Regions from separate parts of the Homo sapiens genome. Here region 2 is linked to region 1. The links come from fine-mapping of genetic effects on gene expression. A gene starts in region 1. The other region holds a variant in brackets. All regions are shown on one strand. Distances are between the middles of the regions.

The links. PIP is the estimated chance that this variant, and not a neighbour inherited with it, causes the effect.
Region 2: its variant is the best candidate, but not a certain one, in a credible set for the expression of ATP1A1 in monocytes after Pam3CSK4 (Quach 2016, PIP 0.78).

What each region holds. Positions count from the first base shown.
Region 1 is chr1:116,370,424-116,375,799 of GRCh38, reverse strand. ATP1A1 (ATPase Na+/K+ transporting subunit alpha 1) reads right to left here and starts at 2,556. Exons shown (of 23, transcript NM_000701.8): 1 at 2,277-2,556. The coding sequence starts at 2,288. RefSeq lists an enhancer at 1,180-1,299 and silencers at 1,670-1,969, 2,400-2,929.
Region 2 is chr1:116,393,969-116,399,344 of GRCh38, reverse strand. ATP1A1 (ATPase Na+/K+ transporting subunit alpha 1) reads right to left here. Exons shown (of 23, transcript NM_000701.8): 13 at 4,060-4,235; 14 at 2,611-2,747; 15 at 1,307-1,457; 16 at 556-724; 17 at 261-415. All of the region lies in intron 2 of ATP1A1-AS1 (ATP1A1 antisense RNA 1), which reads left to right. Among named protein-coding and RNA genes, the nearest start is that of ATP1A1-AS1, 22 kb to the left of the region's middle. The variant G/AAAG (reference allele first, on the strand shown) is at 3,069.

The DNA.
Region 1 (5,376 bases):
GTTAGCCAATTATCAGCAGGGCTTTAGTCACTCTCCACCCACATTTTAATCCCCATGTGGAAAAATCCCAACATGAAATATTCTTCTGAACATTTGGACGCTCACAATAAGTCACAGGACAAACACACACACAAACACACACACAAGTAAACTAATGTTTAATGTATCAGAATACTCAAAATGCTAACTACCACCCAGCAGCCAAGCAGCTCATCATCCCAGTGTTCGCAGCTGTAATTTAATCTTGTGTTTGCTAGCCACTATACATTTTGTTGTAAGACATCTGGGTTTAAGCTCTACTAACTATTCAGGTGGGTTACCACCGCATCACTACTGTGCATGTGTGCCTGTGTGTGGTTATAAAGGAGACATCTAGATAAATGGACATAACTTAGTTACCCAAACCATCTCCATGGCCTATTAATTCAACATCACAAATACCCCGTTTCATCCGAAGTTCTGAGTTCTGTATAAAGAACTCAATGTTAAAGAGTAAATGCATGTTCAGGCTTGAGGCCACAGGCTGTTCAAGAATCAGGGACGCCTAGTCTGTCACTAGCCAACCGTTTGACCTTGAGCAAGTCACTTCACCTTCCTAGGCTTGGGGCACACATCTGTGATGTCTAAACCCCCCAAAATTAGCTCAGGAAGTAAACTTTTTTCTTTTTCTTTTAAGGCAGGAGAGACAAAGAATGAGCTTTAAAGTGCATGTTTACAGAAATGATCAAGGGTTTGACGGTGTGGTAAAAGCACAGGCCACTAACCCAGACTCCATCAGGGGAATGGAGAGGCCCTGTACTCCGCTCTTTGATGCCACCTGACCTGGACCAGCCCTCCACGCTGCATGCTTTTAAAAGCGAGGCGAGTTGTGCATTTCCACTTGTGCCTGTTCTCCCCACCAGGTCCAAGCCTTTCAATTACCTCCTTTAAAACTCCCTTAGAGTCCCCAAGGAGTGCAGCCTCCCTCTGCTCCCGACACTCTGTCTACACCCAGAAGCCTCAGGGCCTTCAAAGACCTACTCAGTGTCTGCACTGTGCTAAACCCTGGAGACAACGAAGTGGATTCTCTCCCATTTGTATTCTCATGACATGGTCACTTTCACCCCATGAACTCCGAGGTTATTCTGTGTAAATTTTTCTCAACTAGACTTTGGCTCATTTGGGGTCCAGGGCCCAGTCTCCTGCACGGGTAATAGCTAGGGGTAATCAAGTCTTCGCTACAGAAATGTAGGACAGCGGCGTTGTGACGATATTCCCACCACGCTCCGCGCCGCTCTCCAGCCCCAAGACCCCTCGTTTCCTTCAGGGACCGCCCTTTGGTGCTTCCGCGACGCTGGAAACCGGCAGAGATTCCTACCACCGTATTGCCTGCAGCCTCCAGTCCTTTTTCGGGTTTCTTGTACCCTGAGGCCCTGGTGGGTCTGCCTATCCTCCTTCAGGGCTCGTCCCTTCAAAAAAAATCTGCACGCCTCTCCCCACCATCGGATGACAACTCCAGTTGCCATCGGTGCATCCTGTGTTTACGGAAAGTGGCCCAAGAAAGCCCTCAAAAGTATACCTTAAAGGCCATCTTAGGGCAGTGAAGACACACCCTTTCTGGCACCAGCCCGCCCAGCCGGCTTCGCACTTAGAAGCAGCCAGTTTTTTCTTTGGGGGAGGGCGGCCGCCTCTGCGCGGAGCAAGCTAAGCCCCAGCGTCCCCAGGAGAAGGAGCCCCGAACCCGGAGGCTGCCCCCGCCGGAACCGGGGCCGCGGCGGGAACGGAGGCCCGGGAGGAGGCCCCGGCGGAGCGCCCCAGGGGAAGGGGAGGAGCGCGCCTTTCCTCAGGGCACGGAGGGCGGAGGGAAAAGGAAGGAGAAGGAGGTGACGGCGGTCGCAGGGAGGGGAGCCAGGCTCAGGGATGCCGGCTCAGTCCCGGGGCCGCCCCCGCTGCTGCAAGCCCCCTCCTCCCGGCCCCGAGGCTTCCCAAGCACCGCCTCTCGGAGCCCCCGGCCCGCTCGGCCTCCGGGGCGCGCAGCCCCCGCCCAGGGTCCGCCCACCCCCCTAAGCAATGCCGCGCTCCAGCCCCTCGGCGCTCCCTTCCCCCGCCCCCCGTTACTGCGCTCCCTCCATTTCCAAACTGCGTCGTCTTTTAAGCCGCGCGGCTCTGCCAGCCCACTCCACGCGGCGCCGCTTCCTCCTCCGCCGCCTCCCGCTGGCCGCGGTCGCCCTCCCGACTTCCTCCTCTTCCCCTCGAGGGCTCCCCGAGCCCCCTCCCCGGGCGCGCCGGACACTCACCCCCTTCCCCATGGTGGCGGTGCTCAGTGCCCGGCGCCGGGTCCTGTCGCTGGAGAATCAGAGAGAAAAGCACAGAGCAGCTCCCGGCCGAGCGAGCGGGACCAGGGGAGCCAAGTGGAGGGAGCTAGGGCTGCCGCGGGGCGGGAGGGTGGGAGGGCGGCCGGCGGCTCGGGCCGATGCCGCCGCCGCTGTTGCTGCCGCCGCCCGGGCTGCTACCGCTGTTGCCACGTGTCCGCCTCCTCCCGCCGCTGCTCTGCGCCCCAGACCCCGCCGCAGCTCCAGCCCGCGCCTCCTCCTCACTTCCTAAAATATGCAACCTGCGTGCTGGCCCCGCCCACGCCGCGAAACGTCACCGTTACCGGAGCAACCTGACACCGGCCGTGGGCCTGGCTCCGCCCCCTCCCGAAACCCCGCCCACGGGCCCGGACAGCGCCTGCTGCGGCCAGTCCTGGCTCCCGGCAGGAGGGCGCCCAGGTCTGGGACAAGCGTGTCCACCGTGTCCCGGGAGGGCTGCGGGGCGCTCCTGCTGGCTGAACAGCGGGGACTCGGCGGCCTTGGCCCTCCCACGCCCCTCCTCCCGCTGCCCTGCATGACCCGCCTACTATGTAGGGCCCAGGAGGTCCGCAGTGGGTGCGGTACGGTCTCGGAACTGGGCTCCCCCAGTCGCCGCCGACCCGGCACCAGAAGTCGTGGGCGGAACGGCTTTTCCAGCGCTTCGGCGATCTCCTCTGGGACTCAGGGATGCTGGAGGGGGCTGGCGCTCGGGTGTGATTGCAGCCAGCGCCTGACTGAGGGACTCCGCCCCTCTGTGGAATCCAGGCCCCGCGCCCACCTGCGGATGGCCTCCCCGGGCGCTTGGTGCTCTCAGAGTGCCTCCTGTGACTTGGGGTCCTCTTTATCCACTTCCCGCTCCGTCATAGCTGGAATCGATCTGAACTGGCATCGCCAGAAGTTTCAAGCGCCCTCCTCCCACCACCTCTCTTTCTTCGAGATTCCAAAATGAGAATCTGAAGGGCGACCAGCGAATTCATTCACGCTATTGTGTGAATGTAACCTGCTTGTCCAGTTTGGGGATTCTCTTTTTAGGGAAGAAAAACCTGAAACCCAAAGGAATGCGTATCCTTAGCTAGAGGAGCTAAATCAAGGGGGAGGCGTTTGAGGACTTGCCAGGTGCCTCTCCACGCCTCCACCTGTCACGGCAGCATCTCCAGCACAGCCTTGGGTTCTCTGGGGGGGCCCAGGAAACCACCACTCTCCCCGGAGATCCCTGGTTCCACTGCACTTTGGGGCTTCTCTGTCATTATAGCTTTTGCTTCTTAGCAAGAGGCTGCAATGGCTGAAGTTCTCCAACATTTTAAAAAACAAAGTATTATTAACAAGGTTTGCAGGAAGTCAAGTACTCTGGGAAAGGCCAGGATATTGACTTTCTAAGCAAAGGTTCCTAAGTTAAAGCCAACTCTATCAACTTCAAGTATTCATGTAGCATGAACAAACAAGGATATGAAACTGGAAAAAATGGAGAAGGAAGGAAAGAAAGGAAAAACTAGAAACTGTGTTGTCAGTTACATCATTAGGGTAATTCTCATCCCTTCTTACAAGATAGTTTCTTACACGAGTCTCTTCTCCTCAAGAATGTATTGTTAAAGGTTGATGTCTCCTACAGTGATCTAGAGACTTGGTTCAATCATTCTAGGCCATAGAGAGCAGAGGAATTGTAAATAGAATTCAAAACCCTGACTGCCTGGAGAAGAGCCCCCAAATTCAGAACAGAATTCCTTAGACTGTTAACAGAGGGTTACAGAGTGTTCGGGGATCCATCTCTAAGCTTCTAGAAAATGCTTTCTTTACATGCTTGATAGCCTCAGTTACTGTACTTTGTAAGATGCTTTTGCTTGCTAAAGATAGCTTGTTTAAGATTAATTACTCCTGGGCCAGGCACTGTGGCTCACGCCTGTAATCCCAGCACTTTGGGAGGCCGAAGCGGGCGGATCATGAGGTCAGGAGATCAAGACCATCCTGGCCAACCTGGTGAAACCCCGTCTCCACTAAAAATACAAAAAAAAACTAGCTGGGCGTAGTGGCACATGCCTGTAATCCCAGCTACTCGGGAGACTGAGGCGGGAGATTCGCTTGAACCACAGAATCGGAGGTTGCAGTGAGCTGAGATGGCGCCACTGCACTCCAGCCTGGTGACAGAGTGAGGATCCATCTCAAAAAAATAAATAAATAAAAATAAAAACAAAGATTAATTACTCCTTGGGCCCTGGTCTGAATGGGAAAAGTGCCGCGGCAACAACTAAATATATAAAGCACGGGTCGGAACAACGTAGATTTCTCCTGCCAGCTGATCTCCTTTTTCTCCCCTCATAAGTAAAATTCTCATTCATTCACTCAACAAAATAACCCTGATAGATCAAGGCACTTCCCTTTGTATCTAGAGCTATTTATTTGGCAACTGAAAATTGCTGAAGGTCCTTTCAGGAGGATCCCAGAGTTCTAGCTGTGTTCCGGTGTGAAGAAAGGGCAAAAAATATAAGAAACATTATCTTAAATCTGTATTTTGCTTTTGATGCCACACAGTAATTTCAGATGCACAGTGCCCTTGAATTCTCACAAGTCTTTGAGGTAAAGAAAAAGGTAAGGCATGACCAAGTCTGAGGCGCAGAAGGAAATCTCAGATATGAGAGAGACACCTTGGAAAATGGGTAAGCAAAGGAGGAAAAGTCCTTTTTTTTTTTTTTTTTTAAGAAAAAGCCTTCTTTTCTTCCCTTGGAAGAGTGGCTTCTGAATGAAATGAAACCTTATAGATGAAACATCAAGCTCCCTCATTTTATGATGAAGAAACTGAGGCCCAGGGAGTAATTGGTATTGAATATTCCAAGAATAGTGGCAAGACTTTCAGGTAGCTTTTCTAACTCCAGTGCAGGGGACAAATTTGGATTCTAGAAGAGAGGGTGAAGAAAGCAAAGGCTCTCTATTCTGTCTGCTGCTTATCCTATCAACTCTTTTCAAGCTTCTAACTTGGGGCACAGTTAAACTGATTGGCCTGGAGACTCAGCATTTATAGACCTTAAGGCTGCCAAGTATGGATAGCTTCGAG
Region 2 (5,376 bases), 24 kb before region 1:
TTCTTGCCCTCCCATTTAAAAATCTTTTAGGTGAAGTATACAAAAATAAAGATTCCCATCTGATAAACAAATGTTAACTGCTGCCTTGAAGAGTGGTAATACTGATTCTGTGAAGCCGGGATTGGGACACACACTGGATACTGGTCCTGAGAATTTCTTTTCCCAACGCCAGCCTCATGGATGCTGGGAGCATAGTGCCAGTGAATGAAGACACAGCTCACACCTCACTACTATCGATCTGTGACTGTTGTGACACTCACCATGTCAGTGCCCAAGTCAATGCAGAGGATGGTGACAGTCCCCAGTGGTAGTGGAATGTTTGCAATAATAAATATCAGGAACGGGGTGATCTCGGGAATGTTACTGGTTAAGGTATAAGCAATGGATTTCTTCAAGTTATCAAAGATCAGACGACCTATGAAAACCAAGATTTTTTACTGTTAGCTTATGAGACAAGCACACTGGAAACTGAACATATCCAAGAAGTATACAGAAATGGATGCTAATGGGCAGTATCTGAATAAGATCTTGGTGTACACCTTAAATAGCTCTCACCTTCCTCTACTCCAGTCACAATTGAGGCAAAGTTGTCATCCAGAAGAATCATGTCAGCAGCTTGCTTGGACACATCTGAGCCAGCAATCCCCATAGCAACCCCAATGTCTGCTTTCTTCAAAGCTGGAGAGTCATTCACACCGTCACCAGTCACAGCCACGATAGCACCCTACCCCAGAAAAGGGAAAACGGGTTAATACCAATCACTTTTCCTAGCGATGGAAATAGTGCGATGCATGCCCCCACTGAGCACTCATTACAGACACTGCTCCTTTCCTATTGAGACTATTTATGAAGCCTGAGAACCGTCACAGGCAAGTATTCACACAGGCCCTACACCAAATAACAGAACTGAGAAGTGACAACAAACATAGCCCCCAGCATTAACAAGAGCTACTCAAAGTAATGACTCTGGTGGGTGGCACTCCAGAAAATGCCATTCCTGTATGCACGCCCTGTAGTCTGACCACTCACATCTCTATTGCAAATACTAGGACCCCATATCAGATGACTCCACGGAGCGGTCAGGCTCTGGGACACAGTGGACACCTGGACTTTAAAGTGCTTCTGTCACTGCTAAACCATTAACAAGTCACCCTCTCTATGCCTATGAGCTTCCTACTGGCCTATTTATACTGAGTCTAATACAGCGAGGTATGCATCCATCCATCACCGTTGCTCTGTTTCCACTGGAACTCCAATCCCTAAAGCCAATAGTGCCCAAAGCAGCCTGATCCTTGTGCTGGCTGACCTGTCTTTGGCAGCCTTCCACAATGATGAGCTTCTGCTGAGGGGAGGTCCTGGCAAACACTATCTCAGTGTGGTACTTCAAAATGTCATCCAGCTGCTCGGAGGTCATGTCCTTTAGATCACTGCCGTGTACTACGCAGGCCTTGGCATCCCTAGAATTAGGACAAAAAAAAAAAAAAAGTCACGCATCACATCACCAGCATGTGTCCATCACCTCAAGAGGGGATATTCTTATGCAGATCACTTTGTAAACAAAACAAAGAAGGAATTTTCCCCAGCACATAAAAGCTATTAAGTGTTCAGTACTTTACAGGTTACAGAGCATTTTCATATATTTTATCTCATTTGAGGCTCATGATGATCTCTAAGGCAGGCCTGTCTGTATTCTTCCTTTCCCTATCTTTATTAGACATGCTGAAATATAACCAAGTTTTAGCTGGGTGTGTGGCTCATGCCTGTAATCCCAGCACTTTGGGAGGCTGAGGTGAGTGGATCACTTGAGGTCAGGAGTTCGAGACCAGCTTGCCAAAATGGTGGTCTAAAAATTCAAAAATTAGCCGGGCATGGTGGTTGGGGCCTGTAATCCCAGCTACTTGGGAGGCTGAGGCAGGAGAATCACTTGAACTCAGGAGGTGGAGGTTGCAGTGAGCCAAGATCATGACACTGCACTCCAACCGGGATGACAGAGCGAGACTCCATCAAAGAAAAAAAGAAATATAACCAAGTTTTAGAAAGTGGCAGAGCTGATACAAGACCAAACCCTCCTCTAACCGTAACATAGGGTGAAAGGGCCCTAAACCTTAAAACAAAACCAATTTGCTATTATCTGTTTTACTTCATTGCCAAATGTCTCCTGTGTTTGCCTGAATGGCCTAAGTAATTGTCCCTTCCTTATTTTATTTTGTTAGTGTGGACCTGGAAAGTGTCAAGATGCTAGGTGCTAGGCAGTAGAGCTCAGTGGTTAACAGCATGAAATCAGAAGCTAGACTGCTGAATTTACTGCATGATTTCACCAGTTCTGAGGTACTTCAAAAGCCTCTTGAATCCTTACCTTCCCTGCTCTGCAAATAATAGGTCACCATATCAAGCTCTTAGAACAGTAAATACCATCTAAGTGCTAATTATTATGACTTGCTCTTACTTAAAACCCTTCTTAGGAATGACAAGGTTGCTTTCTGGCAGTGCAGGTACATTTCCTACTCAGAGCAAGCCTAGATGCAAACCATTATAGAACCACGCTGAAGATTTTAAACCATCACTATTTGCTTGTTCACAGCAGACTGTGATTTGAGCTTCCTGCCTTACCTGGGGTTCACCTGGCTGACTGGGATGTTGAGGCGGGCAGCAATGTCTTCCACGGTCTCATTGCCTTCTGAGATGATGCCCACACCTTTGGCAATAGCTTTAGCTGTGATTGGATGGTCTCCTGTGACCATGATGACCTGTAATAAACAAGACAATGTGTTGAATGCAACTGCCAAGTAAATGACCTTAAAGTCTTATATCCAGTAGGCAAGAGTAAATACTAAGGATGATTCGGCTTAGACTATCAAAAGGAAAGGAATGCAAATATAAAACTAATAAACATCGATTAGCCAAAAATATAAACATATATATCCACAGAAAGGAAACACAAAGGCAATACTCAGGTTTTATCTTGGTATACAATCACTAGCATACACAATGTCTATTTTTCCTTCTACAGAGTTACATAAAAATACTTGAAAATTACTAAAACCAGCAAAAAAAAAAAAAAAAAAAAA[G/AAAG]GATAAAAATCTGATGCTGGTGGGACTGTGAAGACACCACATGCTACTGGCTAGCATTCTCAAATTGGCACAACTTGGAGGAAAAGCAACATGTGACAAGAATTCAAAATTGTTATTTTTTGATGCAGTGATTATACTTAGAATATACTTTAAAAAGAAGCAGTCGGAATGGTGAGGAAATAACTTCTACAAAGCTTTTCAGGGCAGTATTAATCCTGAGAGTAGGCCGGGTGTGGTGGCTCACGCTTGTAACCCCAGCACTTTGGGAGGCTGAGGTGGGCAGATCACCTGAGGTCAGGAGTTTGAGACCAGCCTGGCCAACGTGGCGAAACCCTATCTTTACTTAAAAATACAAAAATTAGCTGGGCGTGGTAGCGGGTGCCTGTAATTCCAGCTACTTGGGAGGCTGGGGCAGGAGAATTGCTTGAACCTGGGAGGCGGAGGTTGCAGTGAGCCGAGATCGTGCTATGACATTCCAGCCTGGGCAATAGAGCAAGACTCTGTCTCAAAAAATAAATAAAATAAAATCCTGAGAGTAAAAAACAGAAACCAAATACCCAGCAACAGGATATTAGTGCACTTGAGTAATATTCAGCTACTTAAAAAAAGACAGATACACAGAGGACACCAAACACTCATTAACAAACAGTTAACTGAAAACACAGAAGATATGCCATTCATTGCATAAGGTACATTAACTTAGAATAATGCAAGTATTTTAAAACTTCAAGTCTTTTGCTGTTTTTACTTTGCTTACATTTCTTTTTTACACAATTGCTTTCCAAAAAATTTTTAATTCCTCGTGTGTTTACACCATCATATTTTAATACTATCTGGTCTTTTCTGGGTGGAAGTAAAGCTTTGGAGATGAGAAATTAATACTCCAGGTGAGATAGAACAGCTGGCCATCTGGACCTCAAAAGGCAACATTCACTGAGTAGGGTGTCCCAAGGCACTAAGAGATGAAGCCAAGGAGGCGCCTGGGCACTACCTTAATTCCAGCACTTCGACATTTGCCCACGGCATCAGGAACGGCCGCCCGTGGAGGGTCAATCATGGAGATGAGCCCAACAAAGCACAGATTATCGATAGGGAAATTCACATCGTCAGTGTCAAACTGGAACCCTTCAGGAAACTGTTCATCTGGCAGAAAGAGGTGGCAGAAACCTGCGAGGAGGACAGGAGCCTTTGAAAATTTCAGTGACGCTGGGCAGTAAGAAGGACAACAGCAGCCTATTCAGCCCGCCTACCTTTCTCTGGAGTGTTTACTTTGGAAAATTTTTAAAGTCTATATTTTTATAACAGAGTGAGGGTTTTATTTAACATTTATGAACGATAGAGTCACTGAAAGAAAAAAAGCATTTGAAAGACAGAATCCATCACACCAGGCCTCAAAGGAATTGGAAATTGTTTAATGTGGAGAAGACTGAATTGATAACACTAATTTTGAGCACCAGGATATTAGGGTTCTAGACTTGCCCACTGATGATGACATTAAGTTATTTGGATTTGGCAAATCATGGAATTATCTGCCTCAGCTGCCTTCTCTGGAAACATCAAGGCCATACCTCTGCTCTCTTGTTCATTTAACTGAAACATATTACTGAGCACCAATGTGGGACATCATGCTAGCTACTTTTGAGGATAAGTACAGATCAGATGCATTCTGCCCAGGGGGTTTATCATCTAGTATAGTAAATACAAGAATCAAGATAATGTAAGACATTCTTTTCAATGTTGTATGACGTTACAATGATCTTTAACGTGCCATGTGGACTCAAAAGAAGAGAGACTGCTTCCACTTTGGGGTGGTGGAAGTAGGGAAGTGAAAAACACTTAAAGAGAAGATAGCAATCCTTCGGTTGGATAGACACATACGAAAGATACCATGAGTTAGATTTACCCAAGTTAAGAAGAATAGGAAGCATTATATAAATAATGAATGTAGTATCTGTCAACCTACAAAGTATTATAAATGCCACTTTCCCAAATACATTAGACAATGGGTAAAGTGAACTTCTCAGCCTCAGTAGCTGTCAGGGTAGAAAAAAATAGGTAGCATCTTAGACTAAAAGTTTACCGTTAGTCTAGTTTCTAAGCTGAGCACATAAGTGCTCATGTAAATTCACACCCATTCCAAGGCAGTCAGGAAATAGTATGTCTAACTTAGACACACTAAGAATTAATTAACTTTAATTAGGCTTATAAGTCATGTCCACAGCAACAAAGGTTAGATAAGAAAGATATTCTTCCACCATTTTTTTTTTTAAACAAACAGAACTGACTAGCATGAGACCAAAGGTCTAAG